Linked DNA regions of Homo sapiens. The protein of the gene in region 1 interacts with the protein of each later gene in a pairwise test. Each region holds a gene or a part of one and is shown on either strand. Other genes may lie near its edges.

What was found.
Region 2: the proteins of UBQLN1 (region 1) and SRGN interact in binary tests that used the Homo sapiens proteins (3 or more experiments, as listed by UniProt).
Region 3: the proteins of UBQLN1 (region 1) and E2F8 interact in binary tests that used the Homo sapiens proteins (3 or more experiments, as listed by UniProt).
Region 4: the proteins of UBQLN1 (region 1) and LNPEP interact in binary tests that used the Homo sapiens proteins (3 or more experiments, as listed by UniProt).

The regions. Positions count from the first base shown.
Region 1 is NC_000009.12:83,662,959-83,666,458, reverse strand, and holds part of UBQLN1 (ubiquilin-1), read left to right. Parts: intron 1-25; coding exon 26-109; intron 110-1,313; coding exon 1,314-1,429; intron 1,430-2,415; coding exon 2,416-2,584; intron 2,585-3,500. UniProt on the Homo sapiens protein: Plays an important role in the regulation of different protein degradation mechanisms and pathways including ubiquitin-proteasome system (UPS), autophagy and endoplasmic reticulum-associated protein degradation (ERAD) pathway.
Region 2 is NC_000010.11:69,091,103-69,094,602, forward strand, and holds part of SRGN (serglycin isoform 1 precursor), read left to right. Parts: intron 1-3,500. UniProt on the Homo sapiens protein: Plays a role in formation of mast cell secretory granules and mediates storage of various compounds in secretory vesicles. Required for storage of some proteases in both connective tissue and mucosal mast cells and for storage of granzyme B in T-lymphocytes.
Region 3 is NC_000011.10:19,227,446-19,230,945, forward strand, and holds part of E2F8 (transcription factor E2F8), read right to left. Parts: intron 3,390-3,500; coding exon 3,186-3,389; intron 2,884-3,185; coding exon 2,796-2,883; intron 2,544-2,795; coding exon 2,009-2,543; intron 1-2,008. UniProt on the Homo sapiens protein: Atypical E2F transcription factor that participates in various processes such as angiogenesis and polyploidization of specialized cells.
Region 4 is NC_000005.10:97,026,580-97,030,079, forward strand, and holds part of LNPEP (leucyl-cystinyl aminopeptidase), read left to right. Parts: intron 1-37; coding exon 38-178; intron 179-1,153; coding exon 1,154-1,235; intron 1,236-1,822; coding exon 1,823-1,954; 3' UTR 1,955-3,500. UniProt on the Homo sapiens protein: Release of an N-terminal amino acid, cleaves before cysteine, leucine as well as other amino acids. Degrades peptide hormones such as oxytocin, vasopressin and angiotensin III, and plays a role in maintaining homeostasis during pregnancy.

The DNA of each region.
Region 1 (3,500 bases):
AATTGTTTGAACACTTGCCCCATAGATGATGCTGAATAATCCCCTATTTGCTGGAAATCCTCAGCTTCAAGAACAAATGAGACAACAGCTCCCAACTTTCCTCCAACAAGTGAGTAAGACAAGATGTTAGCTATCTTGGGTAATGATTTGCTTGAAAAAATTTGATGATAAACATTTTTCCTTGCTCTTCTCTGGCTGATAGCAAAACATAGAATAGAGACCAATAATGCTGTCAATTCGTAGAGAATTCAGCTTGATCTTCACTGAGTCCCATTTCACTGCTGACCTTTTGCTTATGTTTCTTAAACATACATTCTGAGGAAAGAACATTTTGTTTTTGCTTTTGAGGACCTAGGATTTTGAATGCTTTGTTAATACCATAAACCATTTCCTTTCATTGTACTAACTTTGAAGTGCTTCCTTGTGTCATGTTACGCTTTATGGTTTAACTAATTTTGAGTAACAGGAAAGAGCTACCCTATTCTATTTTATAGGTTTTCTTCCAAATTAGTAGAAGGCTTTTTTTCCCCAAGGGGTAGATCTCATTTCCTCAAACTCGGGATTAGTAAGATTAAAATAGTCAGTGTTGTCATATAAGGAAGTAAGGAAGGTTATAGTATAAACGAGTACTTGAGATTGCCATGGTATTTTATTATTTAAAACGACAAAAGAGAAGTCAGTCTTGGTGTTTTGAAACTGGTAGTTCTAGGGCCTCATGTATTATGCAAATGACTCTCAGACCTGTAAACCATTTTCCAAGGTTGGTGTCCTTGATCTATTGTAATGATGTAAGCCTATCTTTGGTTAGTCAGGTGGTGTATATTTGGAAGTAGTAAAGCTAAACTCAGGATACATGTATTAACGTCAAATTTGGAACTGTTGTTTTAGAGTGTACCTTACTGGTAAAATTGTTATATTAGTAACAGATAACACTTGGTTAGGTGGAATATGTGGCTTTTTACCATATCCACGTCGTAAGAATTGTGCCTTTGGAGGTTGTGTCTTAGAAGTAATACTTTATCTTCTGTTGGAGAAGGGGAATAGTTGTGGCTTCCAAAGTAGCTCCTGATTTTCTTCCATTATGGAAATGGCTTTCATGATGGACTTAGGAGGAGGTCAAGTAATAATTTGCACACTAGGTTTGCTGTCAAAGAGGAGATACTTGCGTTTATTTTGGGAAAGAAATTATGGATTACCAGTGTCCAGGAGTAAGGTTTTAGATTTTCTCCAGAAGCATAACAGAGAAAAGATTTAAAAATTTACGTTCACTGATTTTAATTCCTTTGTAACCACTAGTTTTCTTTCTTCCTTAGATGCAGAATCCTGATACACTATCAGCAATGTCAAACCCTAGAGCAATGCAGGCCTTGTTACAGATTCAGCAGGGTTTACAGACATTAGCAACGGAAGCCCCGGGCCTCATCCCAGGGTAGGCTTATTTGGGGAAGATAATGAAAGTGTATAATGGTTACTTTCTCTGAGAATTTCAGATTTAGTATTATTCTGCCTGCCTTTTTTTTTTTTTTTTTTTTTTTGGTGGGATACAGGGTCTCGCCCTTCGCCTAGGCTATGAGTGTGGGGGCGCAGTTGTGGCTCACTGCAGCCTCGACCTCTCGGGCTCAAGGGATTCTCTCACCTCAGCCTCCCAAGTAGCTGGGACTACAGGTGTGCACCACCACACCTAGCTAATTTATATATATAATTTGTTGTTGTTACTGTTTTTAGAGATGGAGCTTTGCCATGTTATCCAGGCTGGTCTCAAACTTCTGGGCTCAAGAGATTTGGCCTCCCAAAGTGGGATCAGAGACATGAGCCATAGCACCTGGTTCTCCCCCACCGTTTTTATTTATTTATTTACTTATTTATTTATTAAGAGATCGGTTTTTGCTCTTTTACCCTGGCTGAACTTGAACTTCTAAGCTCAGGTGATCCTCCCACCTCAGCCTCCCCAGTAGTTGGGACACAGTGCCTGGCTATGATTGTTTTTAAGTCAGGGTTTTCAAAGTTAAAAATGATTATTATTATTTTTTAAATTCCTTTTAGAGATAGTCTCACTCCATCGAGCAGACTGGAGTGCAGTGGCGCGATCTCAGCTCACTTCAGCCTCTACCTCCTGGGCTAAAGCAATCCTCTTACCTCAGCCTGCCAAGTAACTGATACTACAGGTGTGCACCAGCACACCCAGCTAATTTTGTTTTTATTTTTTGTAGAGATGAAGTCTCAACAATGTTGCCTAAGCTGATCTCAAATTCCTGGGCTGCTGGGATCATCGGTCTCCCAGAATGAGCCACTGCACCAGGCCAAAAGGGCTTATTTTAAGAAGATGGCTTAGCTTATATTAAAATGTAACTGATTTACGGACTGGCTTCTGGTTTTGCAGGACCTTAGGATATTTCCTATTTGTGCTTTCTGTAGGTTTACTCCTGGCTTGGGGGCATTAGGAAGCACTGGAGGCTCTTCGGGAACTAATGGATCTAACGCCACACCTAGTGAAAACACAAGTCCCACAGCAGGAACCACTGAACCTGGACATCAGCAGTTTATTCAGCAGATGCTGCAGGCTCTTGCTGGAGTAAATCCTCAGGTATCAGTTCTTTTCCATTCAAGTTTTGTATTCCTTAATGTTGGAAATTTAGAAATTTCCAAAAAGAAGGAAAAAGGGAGAAAAAAGGAAAGCAGTAGTTCTTAGGTGTTTAGATTAATGAAAAATACAGTCTTAAGGATATTGAGTAAGAAAACAGGCATTACAAAAATTGTTGACTTTGGTGCTGAGACACTAAAGGAAACGTTGTTACGGTTGTAGAGAAGACATGCTACAACCTAAAGTCTTATTTTTTAGAAATTGCCTTTAAAAATGCATTTTTTTTGTTCCTATTTGAAAATCATTTGAAATAGATTTTGCTTTAAAAAAGTTCTTAGGGAGGAATGGAAACTTGATTATCCCAAGTACCTCCAGGGCAGCTGTATTCTAGTCTGTCTTTTGACTGGAAAAAAGTCCTAACTACCTTAACTCCACCCATGACACCACCTCCTGCGGTAGCTTGTGTTACATATATATATATCTCGTAAATATGGCTAAAGAATATGGACCCCCTAATAATGTGGTTGCATCTACAAACATACATTGGTTTTACTAATAATGTGCCATTATATAAAGATGATCGCCAGTTTAAACCTGTTTTATTAGGTTGTCCCCAAACTTCTTAATGTCTCAAGGTCTGTTAGGTGCTTTCTGTTTTCTTTTCTGGGTTTCTTTTTTCTTTCCCTTTCTCCTTTCCCCTTTCCTTTTCCTCCTTCCTCTTCCCCTTTCCCTTTTCCCTTTCCTCTTCCCCTTCCCCCTTTCCCCTTTTTCCTCTTTCCCCTCTTTGCCTTTCCCTTTTTTTTTTTTCTTTCCCTTTCCCTTTTGACAAAGTGCCCAGGCTGGATGCAATCACAGCTCACTGCGACCTGCACCTCCTGGGCTGCAGCAATCCTCCCACCTTAGCCTCTGGAGTAGCTGG
Region 2 (3,500 bases), on another chromosome or scaffold:
GAGGAATTAGCACCAATTATAGAGGAGAAAACTGGATCTGACATTTCTCATCTCATTTGCTCTATACATTAACCTCTTGCAAAAAATTTGTGAGTCTTGCCCAAGACCCATTACAACTAATTAACGGCTGAACTGGTCGTCTGATTTCAAGGCCAGAATTAACTTTCTACTGCAGCTCATGGATCAGAGGTTTTCTTTATTTAAACAAACAAACAAAAAATCCTTTGACCGTAGCCCTTGCTATAACGTTTCCCACTGAGTTGAGGGAGAAATTGAAAGTAAACTTAGGAGCTTTTTATAGCTTGTCAAACCATGCAAGAGTGGGGGAAGCTTATCCATCTTGTGGAATTGATAGACCAGGAGGAAGTAACTCCGGCTTAGATAATGCTACCATTTTGAATAAATCAAATGGTCTTCTTTTCCCCTTCATGGTAGTTGCTGCTTAAGTTTCTCTAACATGCCTGCAGTAAGTTTCCATTAAGAATAGGAAATTAGGCTCGGTACAGTGGCTCACGTCTGTAGTCTTAGCACTTTGGGAGACCGAGGAGTGTGGATCACTTGAGGTCAGGAGTTCAAGACCAGCCTGGCCAACATGGTGAAACCCCCATCTCTACTAAAAATACAAAAATTAGCCAGGCATAGTGGCATGCACCTGTAATCCCAGCTACTCGAGAGGCTGAGGCAGGAGAATCACTTGAACCAGGGAGATGGAGGTTGCAGTGAGCCAAGATCATGCCACTGCACTCCAGCCTGGGCGATAGACTGAGACTCTGTCTCAAAAAAAAAAAAAAAAAAAAAAAAAAAAAGAAAAAGAAAAGAAAAGAAAAAAAAAAGAAATTAGTATATTGTGATTATGTTGAGGGAAAAGTTAGTACCATAATATAAAAAGGTATGGACTATTGGAGAAAGTTGTTTGCTTTGGTAACATTTACTCATAGAAAGTATTTTGGTAAAGCAGGACTCAGGGTGGTGGGGGAGGTGGGCAGTGAGGGATAGGATTCAAATAAAAACCATTCTTTCCCTTGGAATCCACTACACAATTAACCAACAAATCCCATAAGTGGACCTTTTAGGAAGATAACATTTCTATCCATGAGCATAGCCACTATAATCACAAGACATTTATCTCAAGCAAGATAGAGTCAAGATACTCTCACAACCTCAGGGGCTGGAACTGTAAATTTTCACATCCTGCCAACACCCTTGAATAGCTATGTCAAGAATTTAGTGTCTGTAACTTGTTCTTTATTTTAAAGTACATTTAACATCATCGGCCCCAAATTAGATAGGCTTTTGGAGTGGGATCCCTTCTACTTTTGATTTCTTTATAAAATTTTAAAATAGCTTTGTTGAGATAGTGTTCACATACCATACAGTTCACCCATTAAAAGTGTTCAATTCAGTGATTAGGCCAGGTGTGGTGGCTCATGCCTGTAATCCCAGCATTTTGGGAGGCCAAGGCAAGTGGATCACTTGAGGTCAAGAGTTTGAGACTAGCCTGGCCAACATGGTGAGAACTTGTCTCTACTAAAAATACAAAAATTAACTGGGCATGGTGGTGTGCACCTGTAATTCCAGCTACTTGGGAGGCTGAGGCAGGAGAATCACTTGAACCTGGGAGGTGGAGGTTGCAGTGAGCTGAGATTGCACCACTGCACTCCAGCCTGGATGACGGAGCAAGACTCTGTCTCCAAAAAAAAAAAAAAAAAAGTGTTCAATGTTTTTTAGTATATTCACAGAGTCATGCAACCATCACTATAATTGCTTCTAGAACATTTTCATCATCCCCCAAAAGAAAGCCTTCGTTACGAATTTTAATTAGCTGAGATTCTGAACTCTGGGGGAATTTTGTATTCTAGAAATATTTTTTACTAATATGCTACAGTTGTATTTGTCATGCTGGTGAAAAGATGTGGTCTTTCACCTGGATGCTTTCTCATTAAGCATTATTTTTCTGTTTAGCTTCCTGTGTGAGCAAACATTTTCTCAGCTTGATACTCAGTGCATCAGCGGCTTGCAGAAGAGACTGCCTAGGCCTGCTCTGTCCAGTACGGTAGCCACAAGTCACTTGTGGCTACTGAACACTTGAAATGTGGCAAGGCCAAATTGGGACAGGCTGTGAATGCAAAATATACAAGATTTGGAACCCTTAGTATGAAGAAAAGAATGCAAAATATCCCAGTAATAACTTTTACATTGATGATATGTTAAAGGACAATATTTGAATATGTTAGGTTAAATAAAATTAATTTCACCTGTTTCTTTTTACTTTTAAAAATATGGCCGCTGGAACATTTAAAACTCCCTATGTGGTTTGCTTTGTGTTTCTATTGGACAAAGTTGGTCTAGACAGTACAAGGTGTGAAGACACCGCCCTCTGCTGGAGAAGATGCTGGATTTTTATTTCACCTACAGGAAGAGACGTCTAAGTAGCAATTAGATGCTAAACTAATGCTGCCTCAGGAAAGAATCAAAAGAGAAAGAGTGAAACCAGGCCGGGCGCGGTGGCTCACGCCTATAATCTCAGCACTTTGGGAGGCCAAGGCGAGGGGATCACGAGGTCAGGAGATCGAGACCTTCCTGGCTAACCCCGTCTCTATTAAAACTACAAAAAATTAGCCGGGCATGGTGGCACGTGCCTGTAATTCCAGCTAGTCGGGAGGCTGAGGCAGGAGAATAGCTTAAACCCAGGTGGCGGAGGGTGCAGTGAGCTGAGATGTGCCACAGCACTCCAGCCTGGGCAACAGAGCCAGACTCTATCTCAAAATAAGGAAAAATAAAAAAGAAAAGAAAGAAAGTCCATAAATTGAGACTCCTAGAGATACTAAATGGTAGAATGGGAATTTGAATTTAAATTTATAAGATGTTCACTCTCGGAGATCATAGGTCATTGTTGTCCTCCTCCTTTTCATGACAGGAACTAGCAATGAAGAGCTCTGACTATGTGCTAGGTACTACTCTGAGAACCTAACATTTGTATCTCCTTATTAACTCTATTACTGCCCCATCCTACAGATGAGAAAATTGAGGCACAGGAAGTTTAAGTTGGCCAAGATCACACAGCCAGTAAGGGGCAGACATTGAAAGGTCATTTTGCCTGCCTTATCCCCAGCCTCCAGGCAGTGGCAGAGTTAGCTCATTTTGGACAAACAGCTCTCCCAGACCAGACATTGTAAGCTATACTCAGGAATCATAGGAAAGATTATGATAGAATAATATATAGTTACAAAGAAAAGAAAGAAAATCCAATGGGAGAATATTTACTGTTTTCTATATTAAAGTGTTTAATGTTTATGTTTTTAGAGGAATATTGTTTATTATAGCAATTTAGAAAACAAAATGAGAAAAAAAATCACCAAAGATTCTACCTCCAGTTATTTTTGTGTATTTCCTTCCATTTTTCCCCCCATGTCTGTTTATATAATTGAAACTATTATTCATGCAAAGAGGTATTCTGATTTTCTCAGTTATTTTTATTTATTTTTAATTTTGTAAATAAA
Region 3 (3,500 bases), on another chromosome or scaffold:
CACAATAATAGAATAATAATTTTTAAATTTCCAACAAACTATATTCATTATAGAATCTTTTAACCTATGCCAATTCCCTTTTTTATAAAATAATTAGAACTATTAAATTGCCGAATGAATCTGACATATTTGAACTTGAACTCTTCTAGCCTACAGTAGCCCTTCCACCCCTTCCTCCTATCATGTCATCTTCATTCCTATCATTCACTACCTGATATGTTTGTGTTTACTTGCATACTTATCTTCTTTCCACCCCTAGAAGTATAAATTCTCAGTAAAAATTTGTTGAATGAATTAACACATGACTCTCTCATTGTCTTTGTTTTGCTCAGGCCATACTAAAACGAAATGGTTAAAGTGGGCTGGGCATGACGGCAAATGCCTGTGATCTCAGCACTTTGGGAAGCCAAGGCAGGCAGACTGCTTGAGCTCAGGAGTTCGAGACCAGGCTGAGCAACATGGTGAAACCCCGTCTCCACAAAAAATAAAAAATTAGCCGGGCATGGCAGCACACCTGTAGTCTAAGTTACTTGGGAGACTGAGGTGGGAGGATCACTTAAGCCTTGGAGGTCGAGGCTGCAGTGAGCTAAAATCATGCCACTGCACTCCATTCTGGGTGACAGAGTAAGACCCTGTCTCAAAAGAAAAAAGAAATGGTTAGAGTTGCAGAGATATAAAAAAGAAGCAGGAGTATATGGAAAATCTATCCACTGAAAATCCTAATCCTGAATAACTATGTAAGCAACAGGAGACCATTATTAAATCATACCCATTGGCCAAAAGAAGTTATGGACCTTCCAGAATATTGAAACCTTATGATTTCCCACTTGGCATATACATTAAATACAAAAGGATACTATGTAAGATAATAGATGTTTTGAATGGTTACCATGAGGCCATCCTCAGGGAAGATTTGACAAACTCTAAGCTTCCTCTTTAATAACAACGTAACAGATAATACCTTTCAGCTTATAACACGTCTTAAAAGGATCAAACCCTTTTATGTGTATCATCATGGAATAAATTCACTTAACCCCACAAAAACTATCATATGCCCACAGGCAAGTACCCAAAAGCAATTGCCACCAAAGGCAGGTGCTGGGTTAGATTTGATCCAGAGCACAGTGCTTTATATCCAGTAGGTGATGAGGAAAAACTGGTGGAATAAATTCTTTACCGATGCGGAAAAATAAGACAGAGAGAAGTAAAATAGCTTGTATTAAGAGCAGGGGCAAAATGAGAGATTAACTTTTACTTGCACATTTAGTGGTATTTATCGGATGATACAGTAATGTCTCTCATATATAATTGTCCTAAGGGAGGAAAATGAGATACTGTATGTAAAAGTGACTAATATCTATTATGTCTGCTATATGTGGGTAGGCATCCAATAAATATTAATTCCCTCCGGAACTAATCTCCACTTAGGAAAAAAATTTGTCTAGCATGTCAAAATCTCTAGAAACCAATACATGAACTATATCTACAATTTGCCAAGATCAGTTTGATTTTTCTATTTACATGAAATAGAAATTTTGATTTAAATTTTAGGTAGAAAGTAAAAACGGGGAGCAATTTATCTTCTAGGCAACAGATGCCAGTTACATGACAACAAACAAACATTAGGTAATGACTCAGAAAGCAGGAGTTACAGGAACCCTATGCATCCACACGTTCATTTGGGGTTACGTCTGCTTGTAAATTATTTAAGACTTTCATGACAGCTGTTTGCATTCCAGTGTGTGATGGAGAAATGGACTTAAGGACAACCACCCATGGTACTTTAAAAAGACAGCAAATAATCCCTTCCTCCAAAGGTTAAAAATGTCCCTGCCTTCATCCCAGCCAGGGGATTAGCTGTTGAGGGCCTCACTTGGATTATGGGATGCTAAGGAACAGTTCCTTGTCTTCTGAGAGAATGCTCTTCGGTAAATTTCACAAGCCACCAATCTTCCTGTAATAGACTAGGGAATTCCTAAAGCTTTGTGCAGTTCAAGGCTGTACTTACTGCGGAGACATTTTCAAGTCCTTTTAGGTCCTCTTTAAATTTCTTTTTGGAACCACTGTCCTCGAGCATGCTTGCCCTCTTTGAGCCTCTTTCTCCAGCTGGCTCCCTGGTTCGGCTCTTTGCCCCTTGCCTCTCTGGTGCTGGCAGCAAGCTTCCAGGCCTGGTAGAGGCACTGGCCTTTGAGGTATCATTGGCTGCCTTCTCAGTGGTGGCATCTGTGGAGTCTTTTGAGCCAGTAGCTTTAGAAGAGTGGGTGGTGCACACCGTTGGGCTCAGGCCTTGGGGTGGCGTCACACTTTGGTGGGCTTGAGTGGGCTGCAGGTAGATGGCATAGGATGGGCCTGAAGGGGCCTGAGGTAGGATCAGGGGCACTGCTGATGACAAGGGGCTGGGGATCAGGGGAACCATTCCCAGGGGCTGGATGAGGGACGGTGCTGTCAGCTCCATCTCAGCATTCACTGGGGGGTCCAGAGGGGCTACTGGTTTGCAGGGTCCAGATCTTGCCAGCTGTACTTTCACTTTCTGTCTGGATTCACTGAAAGACAAGATTTAATACACGACATGATGGATATACATTTTTTCTGAACTGTTCTACCGCTTTAAGCCTCATATTGAAGCCACGCTTTTATGGAACATGCAGATAATTTCTGTAATGAGTGAGTATGAGATACAGAAAAGATTAGCTCTCCAGTTCAAGGCTAGGGCTTCTTCTCACATAAAATAAGTAATCCTAACAATGTAATGTAAAAGTAATTCATCCTGTTATTAAAGAGGATTGCCAACCTACCTTGATTGCTCTTCTAACTGCATTTTACAAATAGCTGCGAGCTGAGCCATTTTACTTGGGAAGGGTGCAGAATTCTGAGAACTCTCAGCTGGTAAAATAGAAAGGAAGAGAGCACCGGTCAAAGCTAAAGAACAAATGTTCACACAGATGAAACCTCACTGAAGTCAGAGGAACAGAAAGTGTGCACCTCCCCTCAAAGTTGCATAGCGATTAAACAATAAACCCCACAAATGACTTTTTAAATTTATACATTAGTTAGGCTTCAAGAGGGTTTGGGTATATAGATATTGAAATAATTCTCTGACAACTATTGCAAGGATCAAGTAAGCTGAAAAAATGAGATAAAAGGGAATTCTTCCTAGCAGATCCCTGACATTCCTGAAAACATACCTTTGTTGGTCTTGATAGGGCTACTGGGCGCAGAATTTATCTTTCTCCGATCACTTTCTATACTCTTTACCAATTTGATAAGAGATGGGTGTCGAGTAAAGTTTGGTTTCCCACGTGTGGAAAAGAGGTTTTTGGCACAGTTCTCTTTTGAAGACCGTCTCACCTCCAAATCAGAGGGAGTAAAATGAATGACTGGGCTGGAGCCTGAAACAGAAAACGTCTGTGTATTAAAACCTGGATGGCTCAGTTGGCTTTTGGGATATGAAATAAAACAATTTTAGGAATAAAAGTGGCAAGTTACAGAGCACCGACCAT
Region 4 (3,500 bases), on another chromosome or scaffold:
TAATAATTTTGGAGGCTAAATCTGCTTTGCTCTTCAGGTTAATGAAAAGTAGCCTGAATGGAGATAACTTCCGAACACAGAAGCTGTCTTTTATCATTAGAACAGTGGGTCGACATTTTCCTGGACACTTACTGGCATGGGATTTTGTCAAAGAGAACTGGAATAAGCTTGTACAGAAGTAAGTTTCTCAGAGAATTATTAACTTTTAGTATTCTCAAGTTGTGCATTTGAAAAAAGCTCCCAGTGTTTTGGCTCACAGAAGTTAGGATTTGCTGTGAGAGGAAAAATACTTCCATGACAGTTTAACTGAAACATCCGGAAATTTTCACATTTGTTAACATAATTCCATAGCATGAATCATTTAACAGTAGCATTCCATCTAAGTTCTAATTAAGCCTAGCCTTGCTTGGCACCAGGTTACTTAGCTCAGCGTGGCTACAGACTATTTCATAGCAACCATTTAGCTATGCATATTGAAAAATACCTCTGTATGGCCGGGCGCGGTGGCTCACACCTTTAATCCCAGCACTTTGGGAGGCCGAGATGGGCGGATCACGAGGTCAGGAGATCGAGACCATCCTGGCTAACACGGTGAAACCCCATTTCCACTAAAAATACCAAAAATTAGCCGGGCATGGTGGCGGGTGCCTGTAGTCCCAGCTACTTGGGAGGCTGAGGCAAGAGAATGGTGTGAATCTGGGAGGCAGAACTTGCAGTGAGCCGAGATTGTGCCACTGCACTCCAGCCTAGGCAACAGGGCGAGACTCCGTCTCAAAAAAAAAAAACAAAAAGGAAAATACCTCTGCATTGCCAAGGCATCAGTTAAGAACTCACATTCAGCTAGATGCAGATGTAGGTTTTTTGCTTCTTTCTCTCTTTTAAATCAATAATGGCATTTCTGGGTGTACAGTGTGATCTTCGACAATGTTAAGCGGATTAATTGTCTGCATGTTCTGAACTCTTCCCTTTTTCTGCCCACCTTTCCTTCCCACCGACAATAAGTATGCATAGGGCTACCCCGGTTTCCTCAGTTGCAGTTCCGGGAGGAGGATTCCACTCTGGCTTTGGCATTAAAGACTTTTCCTTGCACTCAGGAACAACGCTTTACCAGCAGCTGCCTAATCTTTTTGCTCTTGTTTTTGTGTTTCTTCAGGTTCCCTCTGGGGTCCTATACCATACAAAATATTGTTGCTGGATCAACTTACCTGTTTTCAACAAAGACACATTTATCTGAGGTTGGTTTTATAAAATGATAATACAGAGACTGGGCAACCCTCCGCACACCCGGACCAGGCTGCTCAGTTTTAGTGAGATGGTGGATTTTCATGCTAATTCCTTCTCTTATCTCTGTCTTCCTTTATCAGTACTAATGATTCTGCATTGTGATTACTTCTAGAGGGTGGCATATATGATAATGAGGAAAAAATCTGATTCCATTCTCTTCCCTTGTCTCCCTAATACAAATAATTTAAGTGGTCATAAAATTGTTTGGAAGAATTGCATTCTTGGGGTGAATTCATAGCACCAAGCCTTTGGACTCTACTTTATTTATTGTTACTTAAACATCTCCTTGGTTCCATTTTAAGTTAGAAAAATGTATCTGTGTGGGAGTAAAAAGATTTCCTTTTTAAAATCATTTCAGATATCACCATACTTGATTGGGAACTCCATGTAGATACCTTGAATATTAAAGTACTTCTTTCTACTGCTTTCAAGATAGCAGCACAGCCATCACTAAGTTAAAGCTTATTTTAAAAGCTGGGGTTACCTGAGGTTTATCGTCCTTTTCTTCTTTTGAAATTCTTCTGTGTGAAACTTACAGGTTCAGGCATTCTTTGAAAATCAGTCAGAGGCAACCTTCCGGCTTCGTTGTGTCCAGGAGGCTTTGGAAGTCATTCAGTTGAATATCCAGTGGATGGAGAAGAACCTCAAAAGTCTCACATGGTGGCTGTAGCATGCACAACCGCACCTCATTTTGTTGCCCATTCAGAGAGCTTGTAAGCTTGGGCTCTGCCGCTTTTGCAAAAGCCAAGGTAAAGCCAGGATCGCTGCCAAGTTGTTTGCACTCTTTGGAGTTCTAGTTAGCTCAGGGCCTGACTGTATTTTTCATCCATCTTTTCTGAAGTGTCTTTGGGCAGTATGTAGTTATTTATTACAAAATTATATTCACCTAAATGCCAACCATCTACAAAAACAATGAGTAATTTTTCTACTTTGAAGATACACAGATGGGGACAAAAACCCTGTTTTGGAATTCTGTTCTATTCCTCAGTATCCAGAAAGTTACTGACACAGTAAAACAAGGAAAGTTCTACCCTAAGAGCCGCCATCACTTCAGGCCGCTGGTTTGTCAGCCATCTGTTGCTTCTTATTGATAGATGGCATTGGAATGTGGTACAAAGTTAGCTCTGAAGAATATGGTAACGAAGACAATAAAGCATGCACTGTAAGAACTGACCTCAGGTGTGCAGATCTACTTTGATTTGGGGTTTTGATTAATTCTTTATTTTTCTGAAAAAAAGTTTAAATAATGTCTGTAACTATTGTGTTTTTTTCCTGCCGAATAGCCAGGTGCTACAGATTTTTAAAATTTTTGTTGTATTGAAAAGCTAAACAAGGCCAAAAGGTTAAATTTTTTGAATATTTAAGACTTTCTTTTTCATCTTTTATAGCGTTACCATAGGAAACTGTTCCAAACTGAGTTAGCTTTAATTATAATTATTTTATTCATAAATGGTGATAGTCCCCAGATCTGTACACCTTTATCACTCCCTGCCGTAGATATACTTTAGGTTAGTATTTCTACATTCGTGGCAAGCATTTTGGTAACACCAGTGGTTTTCATTGTGACTTTTATCACTATCACTAAGAATGCAATTTAAGTTGCCTTTTGGCATCATAGATCATAGAAACTTTCTCTCTGAATCATACCCATGTGTGAATTTTCATTTTATATGATAGTGTAGCATATTAGAAGCATATTTTAAAACAGAGCCTTTGAGAAATTGAAAAACAATTATTTGAAGTTCACCATAGTACCTTAAAGGAACAAAGAGAATGTGGGATAGGAGTAACTTGAATTCGTGTTTAGTATGGTGGGCTTTGAATTTTTTTCACTATCAAAAATAGTGCTTTTGTTTAGTTAAAAATTGTAGTTTTTCTTTTTTTGTGTGTCCAAACTAACATAAAAGGAGTGGTCAAAGAAGGAAAGAAGAAAAATGAGGGAGGATGTCCGAAACTGTATGGCATTTTACTCCTTCTGAAAGAGAAATACTGTACTTGAATTTTTGAGCTATGCAGACTTATACCTAGATTGTTGTGTTTCTTTGATTCTTAGGAGAAAAGCTTTCTTCCTAATAATTCTTGAGAACTTTATATTTTGTTTGAAAACAGTTTCTATGTACATAAAAAGGGTATTTACCCATTTGTGAGCACTTAAAACACTCCACAGAGTCAGACAGTGGGAAAGGTCACCCTTTTTTTATTCGGCAGGTATCAAG